Regions from separate parts of the Homo sapiens genome. Here region 2 is linked to region 1. The links come from fine-mapping of genetic effects on plasma protein levels. Region 1 holds a variant in brackets. A gene starts in the other region. All regions are shown on their reverse strands. Region 1 has its middle 130 kb from the start of FAM30A. Region 2 holds the start of IL17F (interleukin 17F).

What was found. PIP is the posterior inclusion probability: the model's chance that the variant is causal. Protein levels are from antibody-based Olink assays in UK Biobank. Linkage for the fine-mapping came from a reference panel and not from the study's own genotypes, which makes the PIPs less certain.
Region 2: IL17F starts here. The variant in region 1 is fine-mapped to the plasma level of the IL17F protein (UK Biobank, PIP above 0.99).

What each region holds. Positions count from the first base shown.
Region 1 is chr14:106,045,823-106,055,057 of GRCh38, reverse strand. It overlaps IGH and the pseudogene IGHVIII-5-2. Among named protein-coding and RNA genes, the nearest start is that of FAM30A, 130 kb to the right of the region's middle. The variant TC/C (reference allele first, on the strand shown) is at 4,939.
Region 2 is chr6:52,241,184-52,250,292 of GRCh38, reverse strand. It overlaps IL17F (interleukin 17F), which reads left to right and starts at 5,793. Exons shown (of 3, transcript NM_052872.4): 1 at 5,793-5,896. The coding sequence starts at 5,864. It also overlaps the pseudogene SLC25A20P1.

The DNA of each region.
Region 1 (9,235 bases):
GTCTCACCCATGGGAGGGTCCTTAAATCCTGACAGTTTTTACAGCTGTTCTCCCTCCTCTGGCAAAACTGTGCACATCTGACTCAGAACTGATCCAGCTGGCCCTTACTTGCTAATCAATTTTTCTTCTCTCTACACTTCATTCTCATAGTTCCCTTTTCTTCCCTTCCCAGAAAACAGAGAGTGTGTTTTCTGTGGTCTAAATCTCAGGGCTCAGGCCTGTTACCTGGAACTCAGGTGTGGCCCAGGCTGTGGCTCCTGTGAGACCTGGGGAGGCTGAGGGGACTTTCCCACTCACCATTGCCTGGACCCGCCTGCTGTCTTCTGTGCATGGAGGCATTTGGGAAATGAAGTGGACATTAGTCACTGAGGGGATAATGGTAGCTTTCTCAAATGAGATACTGATGTAGAGCTGATCTTCTGTTTCTCACACTGTCACAGAATTTCCTCCTTCATCTGTGACTTTGGGGAAAGCTAAGGATGGACACTCTATTGTGCTGTGAGCTCTGGGTGACAGCAATTGGAGGGTCTGGCTAGGCAAATCCTACAGGGTTTCAGGTCAATGGAGTTGGAATTTCTGGGAAGACCTACACTGTCATCCTCCATGGAGTCCCATCGTCATCTCTTATGCTCTGATGGAATCAGCCCCACCTAGGTTATCTAGGACAATCTTCCTGACTTAGGAAAAAAATGATGGCAGGCTTTACTAACACTTATATTATAGGATCAGTACAACACCTAGGTTAGTGTGTAACTGAATAAATGACTCTATGAGTCAAGGGGACACATAAAATTGATTGTTGCCATGACATTTATTTATTTATTTATTTATTTATTTATTGGAAACCAGAGTTTTATTGTTACTGAAATGAGTCTCGCCAAGCATTCAAGAATGGGATTTTTTAAGGATAGCTTGGTGGGTTGGGGGCAGCCAGTGAGTCATGAGTACTGATTGATCAGGTCAGAGATAAAATCATAGGGAGCTGAAGGTGTCTTGTGCTGAGTCAGTTCCTAGGAGGGGGCCACAAGATCGGATGAGCCAGTTTATTGATCTGGGTGATGCCAGCTGATCCATCAAGTGCAGAGTCTGTAAAATATCTAAAGCATTGATCTTAGGCTTTATAATAGTCATTTTATCCCCAGGAGCAAACTAGGAAGGGTTAGAATTTGTAGCCACCAGCTGCATGACTCTTAAAACATAATTTCTAATATTTTGGCTAATTCGTTAGTCCCCCAAAGGCAGTCTAGTCCCCAGGACGAAGGAGATTTGTTTTGGGAAAGGGCAGTTATTGTCTCTGTTTTAAACTATAAACTAAACTAAGTTCCTCCCAATGTTAGGTAAGCCTACACCCAGGAATGCACAAGGACAACCTGGAGGTTTGAGGCAAGATGGAGCAGGTTAGGTCACAGCTCTTTCACTGTTTCAGTTGCAGCTTTGCAGTGGTGGCTTCAATTCCTCCCTTTGAGTTTTGACCTTATCGACTTGTTTTGTTTCTCTTTAAGTGATGGTTTTATAACCATCTATGAAACTCTAACAGGTGCTCTTACATGCAGATTTCTGATTAAAAACTCTGAAGATGGTTACAATAGTATAGAGATAAAACTATCAAATAGAAGACTATCTTTTTTGACTTTTCACTTAAAATGTTGCCCAAGAAAACTTTTCTTTTGAGCTATTTATAGCTTTCAACAATTGAGTATAGTCCTGTACATAAAATTTGGAGAATATTTGTTTCTCTCTGTCCACTTTCTCCAGAATTTGGAAACTCTTTGTGAATATCCTTAACTTATGGCAATATGATTTTTCATAAGTGCAGTAAGATTTTTTTTTTTTTGCAACAGGACACAATTGGAGAAACTGGTTATTTTACCAAGGCTTTGACTGTAATGGCGTGCTTCACCTTAAGCAATCGAACTTGACTTATACAGCCAATAAGAGCCCCTTGGGAAAACTGGCCTGTACCTTGTCCACACAGTCTTTGTACAAGGTTCCTGACCAGTGGTAAGTAAAGAATGTCACTTTCTAACAGGCCCAAGAACCCCATGTTTTCCTGGGACCCCAGAGGAAAAATAATTTACCAGACTTACAGGTATTTGATGGTAAAAACTCATGGCTGGGCTTGGCTTTAAAAAAGTCTTATCTGAGATTCCTTATGGAACAGAGTTCCACCAAAGCCAATTTTAAAAGCCTGTGTAAACAATAATTATTTGTATTGTGCTTTATGCAAATAATAAGGCCATGAATAAGACTAAAGTTTATTTTGCAAATAAATCAGTCCTATCTTGATTTGTTTTAAATAAAAATGGGGACAAGAGAGAAAAAAATTATGCTTTAAAAATATAGTACACCTGTTGTTTGCTGTTCTTGTTTTTTTTTCTTCAGCAGTTTGGACGAAATTCTAAATTATTTGTAGGCTACAAAGCCATAAACTAATGCGTTCAAATCTTTACTTTTAAAACTGCGAATTGCACTCCTTACCCTAGTTCTCATTATGTACTTTATAGTATGTTGTTCCCTCAAATGTGGTGCTAGAATTATAGATGACAGCACTGACAGCTTTGCCATGCAAGCCTTGGAACCCCAGGCAGGCCTGCGTGAGTACACTCAGACAGTTGCAATGAGGTTCCAGTCCTCTTATCTTGAGGTCAGCACCTACCCCTACTACGCCCCAGGTCATCAATAAAAAGTTGTAACAGTCTTGGCCCTTCTTACATCTTCATTATCCAACACCATGATTTTTGTTTTTTGCCAAAACAATTGCCAAATATAGTCATAATCATAGGATAAATAATTTTGCTGAAATATATGTGTTATTATTGGTCTTTTGAGATGGAAAGTCCAAGACTGGATTATGCTTTCATGCATTTTTCATAAGAAGTACTTCCACTCTTTTGACAGGAAATGCACAGGGGGTGACATGTGGCTGCAGAAGCTGATGGCATATGGTAGAAATCTGTCCCTGAGTAAAGGAGAGATGGACGGAGGATTGGGTGAAACATTCTTAGGTTTCTGTGCTGTGCAAGGAAGGTGTAAAACATATTTGAGTCTACTACAAGTCAACATTACCCAAGGGGGAACCCCTGTGACTCCAGCAATGACTCTGCCTCAGAATCACTAAAGAGTCCTTCTTTTCATTAGAGTGGACCACAGGATCTGGGCCATAGCATAGACGTCAGAAAGCAGCAGCTTGACACCTGATCCATGTGCATTTTCCTGCCTTTAAAGGGAGGGAGAGAGGTGTATTCTCAGGGTCAACACACTCTTTGTTGATTTTTACACAGAACACTGGCATTTACTTTATTTCATTGAAAGATATATGAACAGATGTGTGTCTGCAAATGATTGTAATTTTCACATTTATTCCAATTGCATAATTTTTAAATTCTGCTTGATGTCCTGGCACACAGTTGTGTTTTCTATAGGTATTTTTCAATAAATCAAGAAAATACATTTTCCACTTTCACTGGCTTTTCTCCATGTGCAGAGGCCTTGAGTAGATCATGTCTGACTATTAGTCTGTTTTCATGCTGCTGATAAAGACATACCAGAGACTTGGAAGTTTACAATAGAAAGAGTTTTATTGGACTTACACTTCCACATGACTGGAAAGGCCTCACAATCATGGTGGAAGGTGAAAGGCACATCTGACATGGTGGCAGACAAGAGAAGAGAGCTTGTGCAGGGATCTCCCTTTTTACAATCATCAGATCTCGTGAAACTCATGCAGTATTACATGAACAGTGCTGGAGAAACCCGCAGCCATAATTCAATGACCTACCACTGGGTCCCTACCATGACACTGGGAATTATGGGAGTTAAATTCAAGATGTGATTTGAGTGGGGACACAGCCAAACCATATTATTTTGCCCCATGGCCCCTCCCAAATCTCATGTCCTCACATTGCAAAACCAGTCATGCCTTTCCTACAGTCCCCCAGAGTCAACTTGTTTCAGCATTAACTCAAAAATCCACAGTCTAACATCTCATCTGAGACAAGGCAAGTCCCTTCCACCTATAAACCTGTAAAGTCAAAAGCAAGTTACTTCCTAGAAACAATGGGGGTACTGGCATTGGATAAACACACCCATCCAAATGACAGAAATTGCCCAAAACAAAGGGGCCCTCTGCAAGTCCAAAATCCAGCAGAGCAGTCAAATATTAAAGCTCCAAAATGATCCCCTATGACTCCATTTCCCAAATCCAGGTCATGCTGATGCAACAGATGGTTTCCCTTGGTCTTGGGCAGCTCCACCCCTGTGGCTTTGCAGGGTACAGCCTCCCTCCTGGCTGCTTTCACAGGCTGGTGTTGAGTGAATGTGCCTTTTCCAGGCACATGGTGCAAGCTGTCAGTGGATCTACCACACTGGGATCTGGAGGATGGCGGCCCTCTTCTCACAGCTGCACTATGCAATACCCCAATAGGGACTCTGTGTTGGAGCTCTGACCCCATATTTCCCTTTCTCACTGGCCTAGCAGTGGTTCTCCATGAGGGTCCCACTGCTGCAGCAAACTTCTGCCTGGACACCCAGGTGTTTTCATACATCTTCTGATACCCAGGCAGAGGTTCTCAAGGACCAGTTCTTGACTTCTGTGTACTCACTGGCTCTACACCATGTGGAAGCTGCCAAGGCTTGGGGTTTGCACCATCTGAAGCCATGGCCTGAGCCCTACATTGGCGTCTTTCAGCCATAGCTGGAGTGGCTGGACACAGGGCACCAACTCCTTAGGCTGCACACAGCACGGGCACCCTGGGCCTGGACCACAAAACCACTTTTGCCTCTTAGGCCTCCAGGCCTGTGATGGGAGGGGCTGCCGTGAAGACTTCTGACATTCACAGGAGACATTTTCCCCATTGTCTTGAGGATTAACATTTGGCTCCTCATTACTTATGCAAATTTCTGCAGCTGGCTTGAATTTCACCTCAGAAAATAAGATTT[TC/C]TTTTCTACTGCCTTGCCAGGTTGTAAATTTTCTGAACTTTTATGCTGTTTCCCCTTTAAAACTGAATGCCTTTAATAGCACTCAAGTGGCTTTTTGAATTCTTTGCTGCTTAGAAATTTCTTCTGCCAGACACCCTAAATCATCTCTCTCAAGTTCAAAATTCCACAATTTGCTCCAGTTCCCAATGAGTTCCTCATCTCCATCTGAGACCACCTCAAGCTAGACCTTATTGTTCATATAACTATCAGCATTTTTGTCAAAGCAATTCAACAAGTCTCTAGGAAGTTACAAACTATCCCATATTTTCCGGTCTTTTTCTGAGCCCTGCAAACTCTTCCAATCTCTGCCCGTTACCCAGTTAAAAAGTCACTTCCATATTTTTGGTTATCTTTTCAGCAATGTCTCACTCTACTGGTACCAATTTACTGTATTAGTCTGTTATCACGCTGGTCCCAAGACTGGACAATTCATAAAAGAAAGGTTTATTGGACTTACAGTTCCACATGGCTTGGGAGGCCTCACAATTATGGTGGAAGGTGGAAATCACGTCTCACATGGTGGCAGACTAGAGAAGAGTGCACATGAAGGAAAACTCCCCTTTTTAATCCATCAGATCTCATGAAACTCATTCACTATCACACGAATAGCTCAGGAGAGACCCATGCCCATAATTCAGTCACCTCCCATCAGGTTCCTTCCATGACATGTGGGAATTGTGGAAGTTACAATTCAAGATGAAATTTGGGTGGGGACACAAACAAACCATATCACTGACCTTCTCCGCATCATCTCTCATGACCCCAGAGAAAGAGCAGAGATTTGTCTGGGGTAGGAGCTGCTCCTGTGGAACTTAGAGGCTGCAGACGACCCCAGTGCAGTTTTATGGAGTAAGAGAGTTTTCCCATGTCTGGGAACTTCTAGCATACCCACTGCCAGAGATTGCTGGTTGGCTGTTATTGAGGGGTTCAGAATTAGATCACCTGGTAGCCTATCTCACTGCAGCCCCATTGTGTAACTTACCACCAATGGCCTTCACGTGAGGACTCAATGTTAACTGTTCTGACCTCATTTTCTTACCTCCTTTATTTGTAAGTTTGGTTACAGATTTTTTTTTTACTTTAATTTCAGGGATATGTGTGCTGAATGCGCAGGTTTTAGTTTCTTATTCAAGCCTTATAATTGCTCAACTGATCAGGAATAATACAACATGTATGCAGTTTTGGGGAAATATAAATGAACATCCATGCAAAATTTTTTGTTTGGATATGTCCGTCAGTTACACCCCTATGAACATAATAGCCGGTCCTCACCAGAAATTGCTGGTCCTCACCGATCTCAAAAGCATCTAGATCTTCAACTTCCTAGCCTTGAGAATTCAGAAAACAATGTTTATGATATTTCTGAGCCACCCATTTAATGGAGTTCTGTTATAGCAGCTGAAACAGACTAAACCATTTACCAAGTCTCAGTAAGGGCAGTGAGGGTCCACCATGCTTGAGAGACAAGCATTACTCTCTCATTTGCAGCTCAGGATGACAGAAGCATGATCACGAGCTGATCTGAAAAGAAGATGTGGCTTTCTCTCCCTCAGATCTCAGTTGAAGCCATGGTGTCACATCTCTATGGTGGAGACTAAATTCCAGTCTGTGATGTAATGGATGCCTGCCTCCTCCCACCCTCACTTACGAGACAGAGTTTCCATGCCATGCGTTATTGACCAAGAACCAAGAAGGACTCCAATTATTCTCACCCCTGCTCACTTGTATGGCAGAGGTTCTGGGGATATTCCTGGGAGAGGCATAATGAGACTATTTAAGTCCACGATTCCCAAACAGTTTTATGCTCTTAAAGCAGGAGTATCACTTTGAGATATATGAATAATTTCATGTGCACTAAGGTGGAGGCTGTTATATTTTTATAGGTAAAGATGCATGGCATAAAGACAGAGATACAGCACTCTGGAAATTGTGTGACTATATTTGCAGTTGACTGTGAATAATTTTTACCATGAAGTTATCCTAAAACACATAATATATTTTTACTGTAAGTAATTAATGAAAAGCTGACAGCTCCACAAGAGCAATATCCACTTGGTTTAGCAGAGAGAATGAGAAATAGCATAATTTAAGAATAATCAGTTAGACACTGTGCCATGTGCCTGTATTTTCAACTAGTGAGGATGCTAATGTGGGAAGATCACCCAAGCCCAGGATTTCAAGGCCAGCCTGCAAGATATTGCTAGACCCATTTTCTTAAAAAAAAAAAAATAACATTCTGGGTCATGACAAACCTCAAAAACTGACCCTCTAAATAGGAACAAATTTAATTGCATTAAAATGTGGATGAATTTTTGACACAAAACAGTGACAGCATGCCAGCAATGAGTACAGAATAACATCCAGTTGTTATGTTAAGAGATACAGACTCCGAAAAAGAGACATCAGGTAGAGGCTGTCAAAGGCCTCACTGCCTAATGACTGCTTTTCCATTGATACTGTGTGTATATCCCGGAATGCACCTGTGAATGAGGACATCATGTCTTTCATAGTGTGAGAGAAAGAGACATTACTACCCATCTGACAAAGGATTGATCAGAATATACCAGGATCTCAGACAACTCTATAGGAAAAATATCTAGTAATCCGAATAAAAAGCAGGCGATATTTATTTCTTAAAATAAGACTTTCAAATTGCAAACAGGCATATAAAATGTGCTGTGTAACACTGATCATCAGAACAATGCAAAACAAAACTACAGTGAAATATCATCTCATCTGATTTTAAAATGATTTCATCCAAAAGCCAGACAGAAACAAATGCTGGGAAGGATATGGAGAAATGAGAACACTCATAACCTGTTGGTGGGCACTTAAGTTAATAAAACCACTATGGAGAACAGTTTAGAGTTTCCTCAAAACCTAATAGTAGTGTTGTCATATAATCCAGCAATCCTGCTGCTGGCATGTACTCCCTCCCACAAAAAAAAAATGTTGTTTGCACTACCATGTTTGTTATAGCACTGTTCGTAATAGCCAAAATTTGAAAGCATCCTAACTGCCCATTAACAGATGATGGATAAATAAAATGTGGTACATATAGCATATGGATTAATATTATGCCATAAAGAGAATGAGATTTTTTCATTTGCAACAACGTGGATGAAACTGGAGTTCATTATATTAATTGAAATAATCCCAGAACCGAAAGACAAACTTCACATATTCTCATATATTTGTGGAAGTTAAAAATTAAGACAACTGAACTCGTGGAGATAGAGAGTGAAAGGATGGTCACCAGAGGCTGGGAAGGTCTATGGTAGATGGGGATTATTGGGGATGCTCAATGGATGAAAAAAGTGGTTAGAAATAACAAATAATACATAGTATTTGATAACACAACAGACTAAGTATAATCCTTAATAACATAATTATAGATTGTAAAATAACTAAAAGTGTATAAATGGAATGTTGGTAACTCAAAGAATTAATACTTGAAAGGATGTAGGAACCATTCATCATAATGTGAGTATTATGCAGTTCATGCTATATCAAAGTCAGGTACCCCATAAATATACACATATACCATTTACCCACAAAAATTCAAAATTAAAGTATTTATGTATCTCATCTTCTGTATCTATATTACATTAAACCTAAGAAGATACTGGTTTCTTCACACTACCAAGATCCACATAGACATCCGTAGCCTTCTTTCTTTGCCTGTCCATAATCTGACATTGAAAAATGAGGAAACCTTTCCTATCATATGACATTAATTTACTTAGTGCACAATTTCAAAATACACAAATTGTGTTAGAATTATTAAACTGACCCTTGTTGAAAATATGTTTATCGACTAGAATACCGTGCTTATATGCAGCTTATTTATATTTTACAATCACAACATCAAATTATTTCCAAAGATACTTGTTTCTGATATTCATGCCCCCCTTTCTGCAGTGAAATTAGTACAAACCTGTTTATCATTGTTAGATATTTTTATACAGCTTTCATTTTATTCTGTGTTTCATGACCAGCTAAATACTTTTGAAGTTGTATGCATTTAGGTTAACACTTTGTCTCAAAAAATTATGAGTTTTCACAAATTATTTATGCCATGTGTTTATCATTGAACACCATGAAAATAGTTTCATTGTGATTAAAAAGTGTGTGTTTCACCTAATCCACACACCTTTTCCCCAGATTCCTGGAAAACCACAAAGGTTTACTGGATCTATATTTTTGTCTTTGGCAAAATAGCCTGGCTATTCTCTTAGCTTCTTCTGCAAAGCATCA
Region 2 (9,109 bases), not on the chromosome of region 1:
GCATAAATTTCTGTAACTGCAGATATACTGTCATGTTGCAGTAGTATATCTTGATTAGATGCACTTTTTTTCTTTTTTCTTTTTGAGAGAGGGTCTCACTCTGTAACCCAGGCTGGAGAGCAGTGGCACAATCTCTGCTCACTGCAGCCTCAACCTCCTGAGTAGCTGGGCTCAAGTGATCCTCTGGCCCCAGCCTCCCAATTAGCTGGGACTACAGGTGTGCACCACTACACCCAGCTAAGTTTTGTATTTTTTGTAGAGGGTTTTGCCATGTTGCCCAGGCTGGTCTCAAACTCCTGGCCTCAAGTGATCTGCCCTCCTTGGCCTCCCAAAGTGTGGGGATTGCAGGCATGAGCCACCACACCTGGCTAGATACCCCTTTTAAAAATGAGAATAAAAGTTTTTAAAAGTTGTATTTGTTAAACTAAATGTGTACATTTATTTTATCATTATTCCCAGCAATCTCATATTATTATCTTACTGGTTTATATGTGCGTGTTCACTTTTTTCCATGACTGTTTTAAGCTCATTAAGGTAGAGACTGTAATAATACAGTCTATTGCCTGTGCTACTAGCCCCAACAAAATGTATCATGGCTCCAAGCACATATGAGGGCATGAAAACATCTTGCTGATTTGGATGTTTGAAGAAGTATAGTATTTTACCACATTTGAGGCTGTGTGTAACTCATTGCTAAGACAACAGAGTCTTTTGGTATCTCTTTTTGTGGGCTCTTGGAGTTGACTGTAGTCATCTCGCTGTCAGTGTGTTGAATAATGGCTCCAATGCATTATTGAAACTCTTAAAGCTGGTGACAGCTTAGATCATGAGTGGTATAGAGCCAGTCAGTGAAGGGTTCCACCATAGTCAGCCGTGTGCCCATCATATGTTCATTAGTGTGTCCCTGGTATTAGCACATGATTTACATTATAGGAAGTGCTCAATGAATGCTAGATGAGATAAGAATCTGGATCTGTTGATTTAGTTTGAACTCAGTGATAGCCAGTTACCAGTCTGGCATCCTGATAAGAGTTGTTTTTACCCCAAGGGGGAAAACTGTGACCAAAGGTCAGTGTTGCCTCCTGCTTACATAAAGAACCATTTTGTTCTCCCCTGCAATCTAGCAAATCCTCTTGTTTTGAATTCGGTACTCTTGGTTCCAACTGATTTATTCATTCTTTCTTTCAAGAGAGCTGGTATATTCTTCTATGCATTGAGGTACAGCTCTGAATGGAAAAGAGATCACTGAAGAAAATGAGTGACTCAATCCACTCAATTTAGTACACATTTAAAGGTCTATTGCACATGTTGCTTTGGGAGCATGAGTGATATAAGCAAAGATGAAAACATGGCTCTTGATTTCATGGAGCTACCTTCACTGTGCACATGGAAGGTCACTCCTGGGGAGGCCTTGAAAATTCTCCGTAAGATGGGCTTAGGGGGTTCAGTCTGGCTAGAAGGGGTTGGCCAGGGGACTTGAGTCTGTCTTTGCATAGAATACACTGTTTAATCTAGATTGTATATTTGAGGATGTATATTTGGAGAAGGAGGCTGGTAGAGATTATTGGGAAGCAGGGTAAAGTTACCCAAATATATGAAGATCCCAGGGAACTATCCTAAAACATGTATGTGAGGGCAAGATACACAAGTATTGGCACAAGAGGTTGAGGAAGGGAACAATGCCTGAAAGGGTGATTTGAGGAAATCTTTTTGTAGAAGTTACACTTCTGGTTGTTCCAGAGAGAGCTGCAGAGGATTGCACAGGCATGGAGGGGAGCAGGGTGGATGGAAGGCCTGTGATCACAGAATTTTGATCGGTTTTTCAGGGCCTTCCAATGAACCTAAGAACAACTTTCTCTTCATTTTCTTCATGTGAAGAAAATGGCAAAGAGTTGTTCGAACATGTTACGCTAGAGGAAAATAACTTTGCCCTGCTAGAATGTGTCCTGCCTTATGAAAAGATGATGTGTAATTTTACCCAATCTTAATGAATGTAAAAAAAGATAAGTTACTGTTTTTTGGGGAATGTCTGTGTATCTCTAGGGCACAATGCCTGACACATAGAATGTGTTTAACAAATGTTTGACAACCTGAACTGAACTGAGACAAATTAACTTTTTGCAGGTCATTTAAATTTCATGTCAGAGCATTTAAACGCTTAATTTTTTTCCTTCAAAAATTGGAAACAAAAATATGGCGCTCTCATGAGAAAAGATTGTGCAGAAAGAGCCTTCCTTCACCCTGGGTTTTCTCACTTATCCCAGCAGGCTGGGACTGTCCTCACTGTGTAGAAAGGAAAGTTTTTCACCCATTCTTGGGAAATTAGGCTACTCTACTCTAGTTTTACTTTTGATTACTTGTGTAAAAAAAAAAAAGCAAAAATCAATAGCTAATAGGTTATCTCTTCCTAAGCATATATGCCCAGTCCAGTTGGACACAGATGTGGGGCTCAAGTCCAAATCCCCATGTGCAGCCCAGGATTAGGTGGTACCCTGGAAATCAAGTGGGTGTTCCTGGCTAGGGATTGAAGATGATCTCAGCCCCTGGTCAGCTGGTTGAAAGCATCCAAAGTGCCTCCAGTGAGAAGCTGAGATTACCTCTTTAATGAGAAACACTTTGGGTGTGGTAGGGCCAACCGTCAACTGGTAGGCAGTATTCTTGCCACAGGTAGTATCTGGTCTAGAAACTACTAGATCTCCAAATCCTCTTAAGGTCCCTTACATTGACAAGAATGAATTCAAGTTGCGAAATGACACACCAACTTATACAAGGTAGAGGATGTCATTAAGGCAACAGTCTCACCAAGTCCATGCGCAGAGCTCTGATCCCACCGTCTCCTCCCCTCATTCTCCAAGTCTGCTTAGTTCTGCCCACTACTCTTCCTTCTCAGCAACAGTTCCAGCATCCAGAAGTCTTGAGCAGCCTTCTGCCTCACAAGTTGGGGGTGGCCCAATTAAGAAACTTCATGGCAACTTCAAGGCCAAGGAAACAGGCTGCATTGGCTGGGAAGGCTCGGGTCATCACTGCATCAGACCCTTTAGACAAGGATGTGATTCCTTCATCCCAGATCAGCTCCCTCAGCACATCTCCAAAACTGTTAGGATATTTCCCAGGAGGTGCGTCTGGAAGGGATACTTGAGCACATCTTGCGGGACTGCCATTGCCCAGTTGAAGATCCCTGCAATGCACCCAGCCACCAGGATTCAAGGCACACTGAGCTCACAGACCCTCTTTCCTTCCGGAGTGAAGATATTTTTTAGCCATTCATTTGTCATGAAATACGTTCCGCTAGCTGGAACGTCTCACATAAGGGTAAGCACGGTCCCTTTGTAGATGCCTCGGATCTGAAACTCCTGGTACAACTTCTTTGCACAGTCCAAGGTTCCAGTGTACTTGGTTTCCCCTGAAGAAGGCTGAAAGTGTAACAAGGACTTGATGGGTTCTCCAGGGGTCGCGATGCCTGTGGTGAATGTACCAGATAACATCCCAGCTGCAAACAGCTGGGGATAGCTGAGCACATCTTCTGGGTGTTTCTGTCATAGTTTCTTCCTCAAACCAAACCCAAAGAAGCACACAGCAAAGATGGGGGTGACACCGATGATAGGGGCAGCCATTCCCTTATATAGCCCTGTGATGTCCCTTCTAAGAGTCTTTGGGAGAGAGTCAAAGGTCCCAGAGTACATGGGAGGCTGTCTAGGCAAACTCGGTGGCTGTGTCTGCAGTCGGACCTTGACAGTGTCCAGAGGGTGCCCCATGAACACCAGGCACATGCCACCAAAGCCACTGGCCAGCAGGTTCTTGAGCAGGCTGATGGGCTTTGGCTGGTCGGCTATGGTCAGTCTGCCTATCCCTCAGTCTGTCAGTTCCTGGGCCGTCCTGGCTCTGCTGCCCCAGCTGCAGTGCCAGGGCTGCCAATCTTGCATTTAAAGGCTTCTACTTGCTAATTAATTTTGGTTAAAAAAAACCATTCTTAGAGATAGCCAAGGTAATGGGCATTTAAGTGTTGCATCAATGTGATTTTACATATATGTATATTTGTCCATGGCTCCTGGTTCATAACTCCCACAGCCCTCGTTATATCCTAAGTGATAAAAATAATAAGCATATCTTTTGTTAGGGTATTTAGCTTTTTTGTCTTTGTTTCCTGAAGCAGCTTCAGACAGCTTCAGAGCAATAAAGGTGAAAAAGACAGTCTTTTATTGTAATGTTGGGGCACTTTAGGCCTAAGAAATAGGCCTCAGAAAAAAGAATCTCCCTCTCTGAACTTCTCCTGCCCACCTTTTCTCCCCAAGACCATAGAAACAGAAAATATCCTGTCATCTAACATCACCCCCCACACCTTTTGTCTTGGAGCTGGCCATAAAGAAATTCTTTGATTTACCTTGTCTAATCATAGGCCATAAGACCCTCAATTCAGGAAGGGTCCTCCCCTCTACCCAGGAGGAAGGAAGGCTGCTCAGAGAGGCCAAGAAAAATCTGAACAGGCAGGCCTGGCTGAATTTCCTCATTCAACCTGTTAATATCAGGTTATACCCTTTTTATCCAATCACATTTGTTTACAGTTTTCCATGTTGTAATCATGTCTGCCCAATGAAGACTCCATAAAAGGCCCAAGAGGATGGGATACAAAGAGCCTTTGGACCGCTGAACTTGTGGAAGTTCTAAGAAAGGTAAACAGTAACTCATCCCTGTGCTGGGAGGGTGGTGCACCCCAGCTCCATGGGAAAGAACACTTCTGTGCTTGTGACCCTTTCAAACCTTGCCCTGTGTACCTTTTCATCTGGCTGTTGACTTGTATCCTTAAAAATATCCTTTAGAATATACTGGTAAATATAAATTAGTGTTCCCTAAGTTTTGTGAGCTGTTCTAACAAATTAATCAAGCCTAATCAAACTCAAGCGGTTTGTGGGAACCTGAACTTGAGGCCAGTCAGTCAGAAGTCCCAGAGGCTTGGACCTGTGATTGGTGCTTAAAGTGGGAGCAGTTTTGTGGGACTGAGCCTTCAGCCTGTGGGATCTGACTCTACCTACCTGGAGATAGCGTCAGAATTGAATTGGATTAGAAGATGCTTAGCTGGCGTTGGATGCAGAATTGATTGCTTGCTGGTTGATGGAGATAAATGCCCACATACATGGTCATGGAAATCTTTTGTGTTGCTGGTTGTGGTGTGAGAGCAGAGGAAAACAGTTTGTTTTATCAACACAATGAATAGTGATTATTTATTAAGCACCAGTAGGAGTCTAACCATGGGGTTAAAAAATAATTAGTTCAGGGAGATAACAAAACTACCAGGGTATATCATTTCTGAATTTTTCACTTATGTCATTCATTTCTTTAGTTTTGTTTTCCCATTCATAAAATGGAGGTAAAGATAGTTTAGTACCAAGGCTCCTCTAAGGATGAGTTTTCTCCCATTTAAATCACGATTCATATTGCGTGACTGGAAAGTAGAACATATGGTCCGTGACAAGGGTGTTGGCAATTTGTGGAAGAACAAAAAAGATTTGACAACAATTTCTAACTTGGTTCATCTCTGTAGTAAATTAAAAATTTTGCTCTGATTTGTGGGCAATGGGGGTGGAAGTAGGGTAGAAGGAAAGAAAAATTTGGTCCTTTTCCTGTCATCCCTTTCTTTAGGGTCCCCCTTTTGTTCCCCTTCGGGAAATGGAATAAAAAAAAAAACCCCTGCATTCGTCAGTAACTCCGGGTCAACCACAACTTAAAGACAGTAAGCAGGTCAATCGAAACAGGGGCAATGATTGCTATAAAACTAACAGGTACTCTCATTGATAGAACACAGGCATACACAGGAAGATACATTCACAGAAAGAGCTTCCTGCACAAAGTAAGCCACCAGCGCAACATGACAGTGAAGACCCTGCATGGCCCAGCCATGGTGAGTAGCAGCAATCATTCTGGTTTAAGGACTGTCATGCCTAGGATTTCAGAAAACAGAATCCTAAGGAATTAGGTTTGATTGGGGTCTTTTTGGAATTACTTCTTAAAAAACAGAGATGACTTTAATTTTGACTCCTGTCTGGTGGAGAAAAAGAAAAAAATAACTAGAAAAGTTATAATGGCATAAAAATGCAGCTCCTGGCCAGGCGTGGTGGCTCATGCCTGTAATCCCAGCACTTTAGGAGGCCAAGGCGGGCGGGTCACATGAGTTCAGGAGTTCGAGACCAGCCTGACCAACATAGCGAAACCCGGTCTCTACTAAAAATACAGAAATTAGGTCGAGCCTGGTGGCTCACGCCTGTAATCCCAGCACTTTGAGAGGCTGAGGTGGGTGGATCACTTGAGGTCAGGGGTTTGAGACCAGCCTGACTAACTTGAAACCCTGTCTCTACTAAAAATACAAAAATTAGCTGGGCATGGGTCAGTTGCCTGTAATCCCAGCTACTCGGGAGGCTGAGGCAGGAGAATGGCTTGAACCTGGGAGGCGGAGGTTGCAATGAGCCAAGATCACGCCACTGCACTCCATCCTGGGTGACATAGCGAGACTCTGTCTCAAAGAAAAAAAAATGCAGCTCCTCACCCAATGGCTTTTGCCCAGGTGGTGTTAGTGTGTGCCCAGGTGGTGTTAGTGTGTGCAGTCCTTGGCATCACAGACAACTAGCATGTTCTTTCCTGTGGCCATCCATTATAGAGTCAGGTTGGCCTGAAATTCTTATCTCATGGTGGGAGCTTGGCCAGCACTTTAGGGATTATGTACATATACATTTTAACCAAGGAAACTGGGGCCTCAAGAGGTTTAATGATTCCCCTGAGATTACAGGAGTGCCCTGGATGGAAGAAATGAAATCACCCAGTGTTGACTTTGGACAGCTCCTAGAGAAGGGAAATTTCCCATGTCTCTGATTGCTATTTATTTATTTTGTACCATCTCATTCTTCTTGGAGGAAAGAGAGATGTTAATGCAATGAAAATCTAGCCCCAGCAGGTCTGGAATCTTGCCTGACATTAGTCAGATAAGGCCTGAGAAGAATTTACTATAGAGGTACATGAAAACAGGGGTTAGGAAATCCCGCATCATATTATTGGCTTAGATAATTTCCTTTTTTTCTCCTTTTACAAGCCATACAACTTAAAAGAGCTTGAATATCATAAAAGGTTCATGGCATATAGCAATGGTATGTTTTATTTTATATTTATGTGTTATTTTAAAGATTACATGTAGCTCAGCAAAGTGCCATATTTAGGGGCATAGGCTTTGATGTCAGGCAGACCTGGCTCCACTGCTTGCTAAATGTAGGATTTTTGGGTAAGTTATTTATCTTCTCTGTGCCTCCGTTTCCTCAACTGTATGGTGGGGATAACAATGGCATCTTTCTCATGGCATTTATTGGGAGGATTAATTAATATCTTTGAGAATAAATGAGTCTATACTCTGTACTGGCAGATTTGTGTATGCTTAATTTTCAGTTAATTTGGCCATTCTAATAAACAACGACTGATAATGATAGAGAAAGCATTCAGTAAGTGTTAACTGTTCATATTAATATTGTTATTATTGTCCTGGAAATTCTGATCAATCCACTGAAGTAGATGGGAATACTTTCCACTTTATACAGATGAACAAAAGCTCAATTAAGCTATTTATTTAACATTGCTGGATACTGTAAGCACAAGAACTGGTACACCAATCTAAGCTTTCTGTCTCCACATACAGTATGCTTTTCTTTGGTTCAGAGGCAAGATTTGTGAATTTAAAGCCATTGCATCCAAGCAATTCTGTTGGGTAGCTTTGTGCTCCATAGCTATTTCTAATTCTAGTTTCCTTAAAGAAATCTGTTGGGTTGTCAGCAAGAAACATAACAGTGCAAGGAGCATTGGAATAGGATTAGAAGTTGAGAGGTGCAGGCAGATAGGACATCTTCAATAAGTAGTTGAGGCAAATTCTCATGGACCTAGAGGTTGGCCAGGTGCATGCTTACATGTGTCCACACATTGCTGGTGAGTATAGAGGATGGATGTTCAGGTTGCTCAGGTGAGCTCACATTAGAGTGAGGTGCAAAGCTAGGCTGAGAAGGTTGTTGTCCTGTTACAGCTCACCTTCACCTGGTGCTTTCCCTTGCCCCTGTCCCCTATTATACAGATTGAGAGCGATATCTATTCATCTGCTTTATAGGTGGCATATAAGAGTTCAAGTCATGCTCTGGATTTCTCTGAGAGGTGCTGTTTAAATCATTCTTAAGAACCAGCAACAGCCTGGTTCAGAGCCCCTGCTCTGTATTACATAACCACTAAAATCTACAGTTTCAGATCAAAAGCTTTGTGGAGCAAATTGGAGTATTTGCAGACATCATCTGATTTCCTGATAACGAGCTATGTGACCTACAACACTTATGCACATCTAGTACAGCTGTCACATTACCTAAAACACTTAGCTCTTCTAATGAGACAAAACTAAGATTAATGTTGGTAATAATAAAAATGACCTTCAATGACAATAGCACTGACTACTGACACCTAGGTTTGAGTCCCCAGACTGGTACTCATAGGCTGGTGAACCCAATCAAGTTATTTATTCCCTCTGGGACAGAACTCTTTCACCTGTCTAATTGGGATAATTAATACTAGCTCTGATTACCTCACCAGGTAGTTGTGAAAATCCAGTGTTTAAAGAGATGTAAAAGAATTTTCTAATATACTCTAAGAATATATAAGCAAATGTAATAATGACTTGTTAGAAGCATTGTAATTATTGCTAAGTCATATAACTCCAATGTATGTATTTAAAAGTTTTCATAATGAAAATTAATAGTGATTCAGTGAGTATGACACAGAAGAGGAAAGAGAAAACACAAAGGAGGAATTTACTTAAGAACCCTAAATATGTGATTGGTAGGCTTGGGAAGTTATCTAAGACCCTCTAATATAAGTTGGCATCTTTTAAAAAAAAAGTCATAGCAGGCCAGGCGCGGTAGCTCAGGCCTGTAATCCCAGCATTTTGGGAGGCCGAGGTGGGCAGATCACTTGAGGTCAGGAGTTCAAGACCAGCCTGACCACATGATGAAACCCTATATCTACTAAAAATACAAAAAATTATCAGGTGTGGTGGCGCACGTATGTAATCCCAGCTACTCGGAAGGCTGAGGCAGGAGAA